Linked DNA regions of Homo sapiens. The protein of the gene in region 1 interacts with the protein of each later gene in a biochemical or structural test. Each region holds a gene or a part of one and is shown on either strand. Other genes may lie near its edges.

Region 1 (7,019 bases):
ATTCTCAATATCCACACTTACTTTGAGGAAGCAGTCACTTGACCCAGTGGCTAAGAGAAGATGATGACTACTGTTGGTGAAATGGCAGCAATTGACTTGCTCTGAGTGCTCATCATAGGTGTGTACTAGTTCCCCAGTCATAGAATTCCAAATCTAAAGAGAAAAGAGAAAAAATTTACAAATATCCATTATTTTCAAAGGGAGAACAGAGGGGCAAAGCAATGTCCATTGCTTTGCAAATGCTATCTTATCCTGTCATAGCAGATTTTCCTAGTTGGACAAGATGCTAATGAAACCTCTCCCCTTTCTAAAATATGGCAATATTTTGCCTTAATGTTTAAAAAAAATTATTTGCAAATATACATATATGTACCTATAGCATAACTAGAGTGTCATGAACACATGACATTTCTTAAGGGCAAGATTTCACATGTTTATATGAATGAAAGCAGGCAGAGAAGTGCTTTAAAGAGGTTAGCATAATAGATTTCTGGTCAGAAGGGTTGAGCCCAAGAGCTGGCTCTACCACTTATGACTTGTGTGTCACAAATCCCTAACTTACCTGCATCTCAGTTCCCTCTTCTGTAAAATGGGGATATCTATACCTCTCCCACACAATTTAAGATATCAAATGAGATAATGAACATGACAAGTGTTCTATGGACTTCAAGGTACCATATAAATAAGTAAAGGCAGATTGCTTAGTTAAAAAAAATAAAGGTTTTATAGTCTGAGAGAAACCCAGCTTTCAACCCTATTACTGTTCCCAGTTTAATGTAAGCTTGAGCAAGAGACTTCATCTCTGAATCTGCGTCCTCTTCTGTAAACGGGATCGACACTTAACCCTGCAAGCTGTAGCAGGAAATTGATAATGTAATATGACAAAGTGTGTAGTATTTATAGCCTCTTATAGTGTTCAGTTTTCAGTAAAAAGTAATCATCAGGCCGGGCGCGGTGGCTCACGCCTGTAATCCCAGCACTTTGGGAGGCCGAGGCGGGCAGATCACGAGGTCAGGAGATCAACACCATCCTGGCTAACATGGTGAAACCCCGTCTCTACTAAAAATACAAAAAATTAGCCAGGCGCGGTGGCGGCCGCCTGTAGTCCCAGCTACTCGGGAGGCTGAGGCAGGAGAATGGCATGAACCCGGGAGTCGGAGCTTGCAGTGAGCCGAGATAGCGCCACTGCAGTTCAACCTGGGCGAAAGAGCGAGACTCCGTCTCAAAAAAAAAAAAAAAAAAACAAAAAAATTAATCATCATTCTAGTTACTATGTAAGACAACTAAGCAGTCTATGCCATATAACAACAAACAAAAGAAATAAATTACCTAATGAACCTTCACTGGGATTTTGACTTTTTAGAGGTACTAATGTCCTTTGGCATTTCCTTTGTATGTTATCAAAGCACTGATTAGAATCCCCAGAGGTCCAGAGAGTTTATCTTATTTTAAAGTTCTTTAATAGGTATTTCTACCTCTGGCTTAGAAAACAGAAACTCATTATTATTTCCTTTTACTCCATGTAGCTCTGACTTTAGAACTGCCCTCAGTGGCCACCTCCAAGTCTGACTCAGAGTCAGAGTAGACACTACAGAGTGAATTAACTGTTGGTTAAGCCACGAGTCCAATCTATCAAGAGGTAGATTTTTCCAAGGTCTCAAATTTAGTCTGGACATTCCATAGCCCTCTTCCAGTAGGTGAAAACTTCAGGAAAACACCCAAGGCAAATTTCTTGCCCACTCCACCTAGCTACATCCAGTACTCCAGATTTAACCCCTTTGAAAAAGGGTTAAAGTAAGGTCTGTCTTCCATATATCAGTGATAACCCCCACAAGCCTTCAGTTTCTCTTGAATTCTATATTAGTATAAATGCTCCTGGTAGAAGCCAAATTTAGGAACAAGAGAATACTTAACAAAAATAAAAATTACTCTCTGGCGGGGCACAGTGGCTCATGCCTATAATCTCAGCACTTTGGGAGTCAAAGGCAGGCGGATCACTTGAGGCCAGAAGTTCAATACCAGCCTGACCAACATGGCAAAACTCTGTCTCTACCAAAACTACAAAAATTAGCTGGGCATGGTGGTGCACACCTGTGATCTCAGCTACTCAAGAGGCTGAGGCATAAGAATCAATTGAATCCTGGAGGCAGAGATTGCAGTGAGCCGAGATTGTACCACTGCACTCCAGTCTGGGTGTCAGAGCAAGACTCTGCCTCAAAATAAATAAGTAAAAATTACTCTGTTTACTTTTCTCTATTTATGTTTTTAGACCAGTAACGTAATTATTAGTTTGTTCATCCACCTGGTTTTCCACTGAATATATAAGCCAGTTCATAAGCAAATTAAAAAAATTGGGGTTGCATTTTAAAATTGTATCTTACAACAGGAATCCCCAAGTTTGTGCAGCAACACTCCTAATCACAATGCACTCAAAGATTTCAACTGATATTTAACCCATGGACTTGTCTATTAATGGAAGACAAACTCACTAATTTGTCATTGCTTTTCCCCACTGCTTGTTTAATCCTGAGGTGATCAACCTAGGCATTTTTGCTGGTGTTTAAAAATAAAGAATTTTCAGGCCACGCACAGTGGCTCATACCTATAATCCTAACACTTTGGAAGGCTGTGGCAGGAGGATCACTTGAGCCCAGGAATTGGAGTTTACAGTGAGCTATGATCATGCCACTGCCCTCCAGCCTGGGTCACAGAGCAAAATCCTGTCTCTTTAAAAAAAAGTAAAGAATTTTCAGATAGTGTTAATTTACAATGAATCAGGTTAGTAGATCAACAGGTGAGAGTCCTTTAACTCTACTTACTCTGGTCTCATGATCATGGAAAAATAAAATGAATTCTGTTGTGATTACAACTCAAGAGGAAAAGATTTTCCTACCTTCACTTTTTTATCCACTGAGCAGGTTGCTATAAATCTGTCATCTGTAGAGAATGCACAACAAAGCACTTCATCCTCATGAGCCTTGATTTCTAGAAGTTTCTCTCCTGTTTCAGCTTTGAACACCTGCACAAGTAACAATAAAATATTTTTTATAATAAACTGCTTAACTACTGGTCATCATTCAATAAAAATCTTTAAGTGAGTTTAATCATTGTCATTTTGCAAAACAGAAAGGAACCTTGGCAAAGCTACTCCCAAAATCAGAATTTCTGTCAGAATGTGTATGCCTTCACATAACTAGAGAACTATTCACTGTTACATGTTTGTAAATATCAATGAAAATGTTACAGGATCTTTGGGGTGTTGATTTTCTGGCCAGAAACTTCTGTGGCCGGTGGCGCCTTTGCCCAAGTTTTGCTTGGGCCCACTGGTCTTGTTTCACCCACTTGGCCTGACAGGCTGCATTCAGCTCACACTACCAGCCTGGGTCCCAAGCCTGCCAAGGGCGAGTCAGGCGTGGAACAGCGAGGCGTGTGTGAGTGAGCGTGGGGTCCAGCCACTGCGCACAGACGTGCTGACTGCTGCAGCGGGGCAGGCAGCTCCAGGTGCCAGCATGGGCTCTGGCTCTCTGTGAGGCTGTGGCTGGACCAGGCACACCACAAGCAGCTTACACGCTGGCACCGGGGAACACGGTGGTGCCCAGAAGCTTGGAGATGCCAGGAACCGCGGGGCCCCAAAGAGGGAGTCACAGCCCTAGCTTGGGGAGCTCCCAAGTCTGGGCTCCCCGAAGGGCCGCAGCTTTTCTTTACTTATCTTCACTTGCAATGCGGCAAGCAAGGGGCATGTCTCAGCCCTGTTTGTGTTACAGCTCTTTTAGCCTCACCATTCAGTGGGATCCCAAGTTCTTGTCCTACAACCAGGAAGAATGTGGTACGCTGACAGGTGGAAGGTGAGCAAGACAAACAGGAGCTTTATTGAGCGATAAAATAGCTCAATAAACCTGCGGGGGGCAGCTCCTTTCCACAGCTCAGGAGAGGGTAGCTCCTCTCTGCTAGGCAAGTCCTCCTGACAAGTGTTCAGCTATCAGCAGAGAGGGTAGCTCCTCTCTGCAGCTGGTCCTCCTGTCATCTGCACAGCTCTCAGCAAAGAGGGGGCACTAGAGTGGGTTGCTCCTCTCTGCAGCTGGTTGTCCCAGTGTCTGCTCAGCACTGGCTAAGCCCGAGGCTTTTATGGGCTTCAGAAGGGAGGAAGTACATGCCAACTGGTCCATGGGCAGACATGGGCAAGCCTGGAAAAGGCACTATAAGTTCCCACTCCAGTCCATTCAGTCCACACCAGCAGCCCAGCCCCCAGTCTTCAGGCCCTTTGTGGCCTGAAGGTGGGGCCTCATTGGTGACCCGCCCCCTTCCACCCAGGAACCTGTCTGCCTCCTGCTGCCATGAATGGCACCCAGGCTGTAGGTGCCAAGGGGAGCCTGCAGGCCAGTATCAAACTGCCCTCAGCACCCCCTTGGCTTCCCTCCTATGCTCATCAGCACCCAAAGTCCGGAGGGGGCCGAGGCGGCAGGGGGCTGGCATGTCAGCACTGCCCCAAGCATGTGCACATCTGGCCGGGCTGCAACAGCACCCAGGCTCAGCCCCAGCTTTGCTCTAAGATCAGAGTGGGTGCCAACAGTAGGGAGAAGTCAGGCAGCGGGAGCAGGCACTTCCAAGCCTACAAGGGCAGGGGGTCCTTCCAGGTCCCCCAAGAGTACAGGGATGCCTGAGTCTGCAGCCACCGCTTGGGCAGCTACAGCTGCACCAGGGGGAAGGGGTCCTGCCTGCTCTGTGGAGCCGGAGGCCCGAGCCTGCAGCTGTGGTTTGGGCGGCTACAGCTACACCCAGGAGGGCAGGGCTCTGGCCTGCTCCATGGAGCGGGTTCCCAGGTCCACAGCTGTGGCTTGGGCGGCTACAGCAGGAACCAGGAGCTCCTGCCCCAATTCAGAAGGGGTAGGGTTCCTGCTTGTCCCCAGCTACCGCCAGCTCCACAGAGCATGCAGCCCCAGCTGCGCCTCCCTGCTGCAGCCAGCATGATGGCAGCAGCCACTCCAGGCAGCCCGCCGCTGCCATCAAAAAGAAGTGTCAGAGCACAGCTTCAGCTCTTGAGACTATTTTGGCAAATTCTTAACAATCAAATAAAACATTTCATTTAATATGCATTCTCTCTGGAACTCAAAAGCCAAGATTAATAAAATTAGTAATAAAGTACACATATAGACATAAGCTATGGAGTCATAATCTTGCAAAGACTAAAAGTATCCTAAATACAAGTTTTAACTAATTTCATCATGTTCTCTGCAAAATCAAAAGGCAGAACACAAACATAAAGAAAAGTACTCATTAATATTTTCTGAAAACAAAGGGAATCTTAAAGGAAATTCTTTAAAACAACTTAGGAAATAGTCTAGTCCAGTTCCTATTTACAAGAAAAAAACCTATGCCTAAGACTTTGATAAAATAGGTATTTTCCTAATCACTGTTTTTTAATCACAGCCCTATTCCCTGTGCTATGAAGCCCTACGTCTTCTAACAATTATTTCCTCACTACCCTTAGCTGACAAATGGATGGCTGGGAACTGACTGGCAGGGTAAAGGGCACTTCCTTACCACCTGTAAGTTTAGAATTAGGAAAACATGTAACTGTATCTTTTAAATCTCTAGAGAAACCTTTAATAAAATGTTCAAGAGAGCTGGATTCCTCTGTTATTTCTAAGTTGCAATTTTCTTGAATTTTAGGATTTAAACATATTCTGATCTGCACAAAACTGGATACATGCCTCTTTGCATTTTTCTCAAGAGATGTGTTTTACCTGTAAGGTTTTATCAGCTCCACAAGAAGCTATTCTCTGACCATCCTCAGAAAAGCAGGCATGGTAAACAGCATCTGTGTGGGGGCGGACAACTAAGCGGGAAAGATTCGTGATGTTTTTTTTGTTTCTAAATACAGGGAAAAAATGAACAGAAATTAAATAAATGAGAGTAAAAGTAACTATTTTCTTTCAGTACTAAAATAAACTGTCTTTTAACATGGTTATGTTCCCCAAAATACAAAATTCTTAAAATCAGATTACTAACATGCAAATGACAGCACAGATCACCAAAAGAAAAAAAATAACAAAAGTAGCATTTGTAAGAGAAATGTTACCCTTTATCAAGCAACCTGTCACGTGTTACAAATGTCACTGAGTTGGAAGAAATCTAATTAATCAAATTAATCAAATCTAGTTAATCAACATGTCACTTTCCATTTTCCTTTGATACATTAATAATGATACATGTGCAGATAAATCATTATATAAGGATACCTTCAAAAATTCTCCATCTCTTTTTTAAAATAAAAATCATAGCAAAATGCTCATTTCCTAACTGAAGGAAACACCCACCATTATTATGATGTACTTTAAAGCTGCTCTTCTCAGCCAGGCGCAGTGGCTCATGCCTGTAATCCTAGCACTTTGGGAGGCCAAGGTGGGTGGATCACCTGAGGTCAGGAGTTCAAGACCAGCCTGGCCAACATGGCGAAACACCGTCTCTACTAAAGATAAAAATTAGCTGGGTGTGGTGGCACGTGCCTGTAATCCCAGCTACTTGGGAGGCTGAGGCAGGAGAATCGCTTGAACCTGGGAGATGGAGGTTGCAGTGAGCCAAGATCGCGCCACTGCACTCCAGCCTGGGCGACAGAGCAAGACTCCATTTCAAAAAAAAAAAAAACTGCTTCTCTCAAACTACAATTATTCAGACATACCAAAAAGATAAAGCAACATCATATTCTTTGTATCTCAATCTAATGAATATCAACTATTCCACCAGTATAGATATTATATTACTGCTCATAGTATCTAAAGTATAAAGGGGCCAGGCATGGTGGTTCACACCTGTAATCCCAGGACTTTGGGAGGACGAGGCGGGCAGATCACTTGAGGTCAGGAGTTCGAGATGAGCTTGGCCAACATGGTGAAACCCCATCTCTACTAAAAATACAAAAATTAGCAGGCATGGTGGCACACACCTGTAATCCTAGCTACTCGGGAGGCTGAGGCATGAGAATCGCTTGAACCCTGGAGGTGGAGGTTGCAGTGAGCCAA
Region 2 (7,879 bases), on another chromosome or scaffold:
GTTACAGTTCTTAAAGATGGTGTGTACGGAGTTTGTTCGTTCAGATGTTCAGAGTTTCTTCCTTCTGGTGGGTTCGTGGTCTTGCTGACTTCAGGAGTGAAGCTGCAGACTTTCACAGTGAGTGTTACAGCTCTTAAAGGTGGCACGCAGGTTGTTCGTTCCTCCCGGTGGGTTCATGGTCTCGCTGACTTCAGGAATGAAGCCGCAGACCTTCGCAGGGAGTGTTACAGCTCATAAAGGTAGTGCGGACCCATAGAGTGAGCAGCAGCAAGATTTATTGTGAAGAGCGAAAAAACAAAGCTTCCACAGCCTGGAAGGTGACCGAGGGGGGTTGCCGCTGCTGGCTCTGGTGGCCAGCTTTTATTCCCTTATTTGGCCCCACCCACATCCTGCTGATTGGTCCATTTTACAAAGAGCTGATTGGTGGGTTTACAAACCTTTAGCTAGACACAGAGCGCCGATTGGTGCATTTACAATCCTTTAGCTAGACAGAAAAGTTCTCCAAGTCCCCATCCGACCCAGAAGCCCAGCGGCTTTACCTCTCACTAGCTTTTCTCTTTAGCTTCATCTCAAGTCTCTGGCCCCTACTTTATGTTCCAGAACACCAAACTTAATATGGGAACACACCATGTCTGTAATCAAGGACAACCCTGAGATTGTGTACATGCTACTTCCCCTACTTGGAATATCCTTACTTTCATTGCATGTGGTTATGTCTTCCTGATCCTTTAGGCCTCAGTAGATACTTTCACTGTTTCCTGAGGTATTCTCTAACCCATTCAAGTGTATACTCCTAAACTACCTTGAACTTTCCCATCTAAGTCATATCGTCATATGTCAAACTATGTCATGTTGTCATACCATCTTTGTCTCTTTGCTAATTTGTCTCTTCCACTGTACAGCATGTTCTAGGGGAGAAGGAACCAGATGCAGCTTGCACTTATAAATCCACAATGCCTGGCACATAGTAGGCGCTCACTAAATATTCGTTGAATTAATCACTTACAGTTGAACATTCCCCTTCCTTAAGGCCAAAGAGACTGTCTCTTTCCATTGCCCATGACCCCCTAAAACTACAATGAAATTTTATGACTTCTTAAAACTTTTCTTATTGCTGTTTTTATGTATTTGTACAAAACCAGACAAATACAAATATCTAGAGGGGCTCATGTATTTAACTAGATATGCAAATCCAGTGTGAGTAGTGGAAGCTGTGGTAACCTGGCCAGCACCCTCTGTAAAGGTGGTGTTCACTAGTAACCGCAATCCAGATCCCATGAAAAAATAAGGGCCCAATGTCACCATGTGTTCTGAGGTTTTAAAAGAAGCTGAAATGATTCTGGATTTTGAAATGTTGGCTTGGCAGGGCGTGGTGGCTTACACCTGTAATCCCAGCACTTTGGGCAGCTTAGGGGGGTGGATCACCTGAGATAACGAGTTCGAGACCAGCCTGGCCAACATGGTGAAACCCAGTCTCTACTAAAAATACAAAAATTAACTGGGTGTGGTGACATGCGCCTGTAATCCCAGCTACTTGGGAGGCTGAGGCAGGAAAATCGCTTGAACCAAGGAGGCAGAAGTTGCAGTGAGCTGAGATCACGCCACTGCACTCCAGCCTGGGCAACAAGAGCAAAACGTGTCAAAAAAAAAAAAAAAAAAAAAAAAAGGTTGGCTCAAATTTTTCATGAACATTGAGTGCAGCAAAAAAAAAACATGCCTGTCCACCAAGCTGTCTGTGGGCCATGTTTGGTTTGAGAATCCTAGTTTATTCTCGGGTCCCTTAAGGCTCTCTTTGATGCTCATTCTGATGACATTACACTAAGATTTACTGATTGAGGGTACGGACACTTCTCCATACACACTTGCCCAGGAACGATCTCCAGTTACCTGTCCTGTCTCCAAGATCTTCTCTCTCTCATCCAATCTTGCCTATGCAGCATTCTATTTTCAGAGTCGTCTTTGCTAATTTGGGGAAGTCACTTATTCAAACAAGAAAGTGGTTGACAAATGTTTAGCAATGAAATCTCCCGCGAGTTACTACTTTTTAATTAGGATTTTCAACCCTAAGAAAGATATAGATAGGAGGAATAAGATAGGGGGAATAAGGAAACTAATTTTGAGGGGTTTCCCTGCCTCTTAGGTGGGGTTTATCATATTGTGCTGAAACTGCTTATTCGTCTAGTTCTCCAGACCCTGGGCCATTTATCTTACGTATCCCTATCTCTGAGCGTGTAGAAGGCGCTCCATAAAACTGTTGGTTTGTGTAAATGACCGAAAACTACATGCAGCGTGAGGGTGGATTTCCCTTTGACTTCGGCTTAAGGAAGAATCGTTCCCATGATCATCCCACAATTCATCTAAACGGAGATAGGCAAGGAGCAACTGCTCAAAGGCAAAGCGCTGGCAGCTGAGGCACAGCTCCGGTTCGGCAAACGTCTCCCGAGTGCCAAACGTCCCCCCAAACGCCTAACTGGTCGTCAGGGCGCAGAAAAGAAGCTTGGGGGGCGCGGTCTTCGCCCCAGCTCCACTTCGGTGCTTCACGATTCCTTCTCTGGCCTGCCTTCCTGATAAATACCCGGTGAGGTCACCTAAACGCTCTCCTCTCTCAGTTATTTGCTTCTTTCCAACGTTTGGCGCCCAGCTCCCGCCATCGGAGCGCCCCGCCCGAGACCACTGATCTCCTGGGGCCTCGCAGCCTTGCTTCCGAACGCCAAGGTCGCGGTGCGCCGGGGTAGCGAACGGCCAGGCCCGAAACCCCGCCCCGCAGCTAAACGCCCGGCCCGCTACCCTGCGCCCAGCTCCAGCCGCCGGGTCCCGCCTGGGCCTCTCCTCCTGGGAATACCGGGCACCGGTGGCCCCGCCCCTACCTGCGCGCCGCATCTCCGGGAACAACAGTCTCCCTCCCGAGCATCACAGCCAGACATGGCCCAGACCAGGGACCCGCGCGGCCTCCAATCTCCGCACGGCTTTGCGCGCGGCGCTTAGCCTGGGATACGGCAGCGAGGCCGCAAATGCAATCAGGCGGCGCTGAGGGCAGCCCGGGGGCGGGGCGAACGGGGCGGGGGCCGGGGTCTGGTAAGGCCCCGCCGGCTGAGATATCCAGCGGCGCACCTGACTTCCCGGGAGGCAAGGCCAACGTGGTTGGAGGCGGGGCTGGGTTGGGGGGCGGGGGTTCAAGTCTGAGAGACCTAAAGGCACCGCTAGCGTCTGGGGGCGTGGCCAACCATGCGGGAGGCGGGGCCTTGATGCTGGACATCAGGCTGTGCTGCGGGCAGCCAGTGAGAAGGCCGTCAAGATGGCGGCCTCCTGGAGGCTGGGCTGTGATCCGCGGCTGCTGCGTTATCTTGTGGGCTTCCCCGGCCGCCGAAGCGTAGGGCTGGTGAAGGGGGCTCTTGGGTGGTCTGTAAGCCGCGGAGCTAATTGGAGATGGTTTCACAGCACGCAGTGGCTTCGGGGTGAGTGGCCGGGGCTCGCTCAGCTTCTCTGTGTAGCTGAGTGATGGGCCTGGGACAGGGGCAGTTATGATTGAGGGCCTGCTTTTGGGTGTGAAGGTGCGCGGGCTCCTTATTCCCTTTCCTCTTTCTCCGGTTGGGGTCCGCCGACTTGGCCTAATGCATGCTGTGAAGGGCTTTCTTGGCAGCTGAGAGAACTCGACTCTGCCCTAGGCCCCCTGGTTTGTATGGCTTTGTGACCTTGCCTTGGAATTTGGGTTATTTGTGAGGCGCAGAGAGGGTTCCCAAACTCTCCTCCCTCAGCCCCCTTTCCAATCAAGGCTCAGGTTTCTTTAGGGTTGTCAAACGTCTCGGACGAGAAAAAGCTGCCCAAGGTTGCCGAGATTGAAAAGCCACTGTTGGGAGTTCTTACTTATTCTCTAGGCCTCTCTCTGTTAGGAGGTGTTTTCATTGAGGCCAGTCGAGTTTTACCCCACGCCATGACTCGTGGAAGACTTAAATTTGTAAATTCCTACGGCATCACGATAGACAAAGGTCCAGGAGAATGTTTCAAGCAAATATTCGCTTGAAAGAGCAAACATTTAGGAGATAAATCATACCAAAAATTTATTATAGAAAATTGTTGTTTAGTAATGATATTGATGCAGTTAACACAATTCTTGCAGTATTTAACAGTATGCAAAATGGCAGGCCGGGTATTATTTTTCCTTATTTTGGGAGAAGGTTGGAGGGAGGCGGGGATGGAGAATAGGACTGACGTTTTTTAGTGTGACGTATTACCTGCCAATCATCGTTCCTGGCACTCTACAGAATGAATTTTAATTTAAATAGGTCTAGTAGACGTTGCCTTCATATTCTGAGCTACCTTAGGCTCAGAAAAAAAAAATCACACAAAGTCATATGGTAAGATGAGTGTATTGGGGTTCCTAAAGGTTCCTTAATGGGAACAATTTATTTCATTTTTGGTGTAATGTTTCATAACATATTCCTTGGAGCAGAGGTGCTTTAACAGTGTGTGCAGAATTCCTTCTCTTCCCTCCTCCAAGTTTGTTGAAATTAAACTTTTTTCCAGCTCCTAGAGATTCGGTCTGGTCTGGTGTGGGGCTCAGGAATCTGCATTTTACAAATGTTGGATGAGTTTTGATGTTTTATTTTGACATTTAATGGAATGAGCTTTGAGACTCACTGCCTTAGAAAATCATGGAATATTAAAAGTTTAGTATTGGATATAATCTAGGAAGAGTGCTCTTAATCTTGTTTATCAAGCAGATCCTTTTGAGAATCTTTGAAAATGTTACAGACTCTCTGTACAGAGGAAGTACCATAAATGGTCACACACAAAAATGTGCACGTAGTGGCTCACGCCTGTAATCCCAGCACTTTGGGAGGCGAAGCTGGAAGATTGCTAGAGCCCAGGAGTTGGAGACCAGCCCGGGCAACAAAGTGAGACCCCCGTCTCTACTTAAAAAAAAAAAAAGAAAGAAAAAAAGCCAGGCGTGCTGGCATCCCAGCTACTCCAGGGGCTGAGGCAGGAGGATCCGTTGAACCCAGGAGTTAGACGTTTCATTGAGCTATGATCCTGCCGCTGCACTTTAGCCTGGGTGACAGAGTGAGACCCTGTCTCAGGAGAAAAAAAAAAAAAAGTATACATAGGCCCAGTTTAATGCCTTTAGAAACTCAGTTAGGCAAGCAATCCTTATCTGCATCCTCATGATGCTTTTTTACCTATTCCCTATCCCCTAGACATATACCATGAACAACTTGTCTACCCCAGTTTGAATACCATCTGTCAGGAAGAAGGCATGGCATCTCAAGGAAAGCCAAATTAGTTTTCTAGTGCTGCTGCAACAAATTACCAGAAATTAGTGGCTTAAAACAACACAAATTCACATCTCATAGTTCTAGAGGTCCGAAGTCCAAAATGGATCTAACTAGGCTAAAATCAAGCTATTGGTAGGAGCTGCATTCTTTTCTGGAGGCTCGAGACCCCATTCCCTTAAGTTTTCCAGATTCTAGAGGTTTCTAAGATTCTTTGACTCATGGGCTTCAAAGTCAGCAATGGCTGGTTCAGTCTTTATCACATTACGTCACTCTTAATACTCCCCTCTGCCTTCTGCCACTTACAAGGACCCTTGTGATTACATTGGGCTCATCTGGATGATCCTGAATATTTTCCCCATCTCAAGGTTGAGTAGAAACCTTAATTCCATCTTTAACCTTAATTCCCTCTTGCCATGTAACAGCATATTCATAGGTTCTGGGTATTAGGACGTGAACCTTTTGAGGCATGGCATTCTGCATGTGAAGCTGTGGAAAGTATTTGGAAATACTAAGTATTTGGAAGTGTTGGACTTTTTTCCTAATACCGAGCCAAAATATATCCGCTTCTGACTTTCACCTACATACAGATTTTTGTTTTGCCATGCCGAAAACACGTGGCAATCCTTGAACTATTTGTTTTACAAACTGTGAATTTACGGTGGTGTTTTTTCTCTGAGCTTGGTAGAAACTGTAGTTTTATAAAACTAAACAACTATTTGGATTACTGTAAACTATATAAATTAAGTACATTTATTGAACTGTTTCGTCTTTCACACAAATATCTTTAAAAATTTGTCAGTCGGAACTACCTTTGGAGTTTTAATTTCCTTAAGAGGTGCTGGCAGCATTTTTATGAGCTATGACATATGCCATTTTCTTAGCACTTTCTAGAATTTCTCATTCACTTCTCACATAACCTAGTAAAGTTGGCATCATCTGCATTTAGTTGGACAAAAACACCAAGGCTTAGAGAAATTGAGTCTCCTAAAGACATGTAACTGTGTTGATGAACTGAAGTGCATGTATATATTTATATACATATATTAATTTGTTTAACAAATCTTTAATTTGTATCATTCTCTCAACAGATTTATTGAGAATGCAGAGACTATCTTTTTTACCACTTACATTATTGAAGAATGAGTGAAGAAATTAGCATCTATTAGGTGCCAGGCACATGGTACCCTGCTTGGGAAGTAGTGGCCAGCTGAATCAAACAGATTCTCAGTATTTGCCACATGGCACATTTAATCATACTTAGCTCCTGGACATGCAATCCAAAATTCTATATAGGGCTGATCCTTAAGGTATTTGTAGTCTCTTTGGGGACATAAACAATAAAGGTATGATTTCAATAGTGTATACAGTAAGCTCAGAGGGGGTAAGTTTGAAATGATCAGGAAATAATATATAAGGCAGCTTCTTAGAGGAAGAGGTGACAGCCCTTACAGGCTGAAGGAACAGCAGAAACAAAGACCCAGAGACCAGAGTGATCATTATATAATTGACACAGCATCTGTAAACAGTTTTTCAACCTACTCTAGACAGTTAACTTCAGAGAGTTTAAATTGTGGTCCTTTCAGAGTAGGTAGCATGATTTGGAATATAATTGGTAAGATGTTAATTAATAGTATTGGTTTTAAGTTGTCTCTGAAGAATAACATGTTGAATTTAAAATAACCTGTGAATAGAAAAGTAACTGAGGTTCAATCTTGGTGGCGATTTGCCTAGTATATAATTATAGGCAATACATATTATAGATGTTCAATAAACATATCTAAGGAAGCTAGTAATCTAGGAAGTTATAAAAGAACACTAGAGCCTACAGTAGGATTCCAAGTTGGCAGCCAGGGAACTGACCCACATTGTTTTAGCAGAAAAACTTATGGCAAAATTTTAAAATCAGGAGACTTTACAGAGAAATCTAGATTTTTGTTCTCTCTTTAAAATTGATAGTTAAATCCTATGTGGTGACAATTATCTAACACTGAGTAATGATTGTTCTTTTTAGGTAGGAAATTGCTTCCTACTTTGTCACTATGCCGCCTACTCTGTATTACATCTTAGCAAGGCTGAATGTCCCTTGGTATTTGCATCACCTCTAGTTGTCATTTTTTTTTCTTGTACTCTTATCTCTACGGAAGGCAGAAGACAAAAGACCAAGAAAAATGGGAGAAAGCAGATATTGTGTATATGTGTAAAGGAGGAAAATGCTTATCCATTTAATATGAAAATAAAGGATGTCAGAATCTAAAGAAAAAACCTGAAGATGCTAGTCCTCTTCTCTCACCTGCCTGTTTTTTGTAGGCATCTGAGTTTTTGACAGCAGTGCTATAACCAGGAGAGAGGGAACTTCTTTGATAGAGTTAATGGTATGGTATTTCTGCCAAAACACGGATACTCTTTTAGGCCTGGTTCTTATTAAGTGCTTATACACTGATAAGATTGATATTCTCCTTTGAATTCTCATTTAACTGTGGAAACAGAAACATGTAGAATAGCTCTAGTAAAAGTAGGATTTATTAAAAGGATAGAACATCACTTATAAAATGCTGCAGGGCCATGGGGAAACCATAATTATTCCATCTATTTCTTCTAGGGCTCAT

Evidence for each region.
Region 2: the proteins of APAF1 (region 1) and APIP form a complex in vitro, tested with the Homo sapiens proteins (one study listed by BioGRID).

Annotation. Positions count from the first base shown.
Region 1 is NC_000012.12:98,676,277-98,683,295, reverse strand, and holds part of APAF1 (apoptotic protease-activating factor 1), read right to left. Parts: intron 5,872-7,019; coding exon 5,745-5,871; intron 3,020-5,744; coding exon 2,894-3,019; intron 154-2,893; coding exon 22-153; intron 1-21. UniProt on the Homo sapiens protein: Oligomeric Apaf-1 mediates the cytochrome c-dependent autocatalytic activation of pro-caspase-9 (Apaf-3), leading to the activation of caspase-3 and apoptosis. This activation requires ATP. Isoform 6 is less effective in inducing apoptosis.
Region 2 is NC_000011.10:34,913,361-34,921,239, forward strand, and holds the start of APIP (methylthioribulose-1-phosphate dehydratase), read right to left. Parts: upstream 3,020-7,879; 5' UTR 2,925-3,019; coding exon 2,868-2,924; intron 2,579-2,867; exon of another isoform or gene 2,560-2,578; intron 1-2,559. Other genes in the region: PDHX (pyruvate dehydrogenase protein X component, mitochondrial isoform 1 precursor), read left to right, coding at 3,296-3,455. UniProt on the Homo sapiens protein: Catalyzes the dehydration of methylthioribulose-1-phosphate (MTRu-1-P) into 2,3-diketo-5-methylthiopentyl-1-phosphate (DK-MTP-1-P).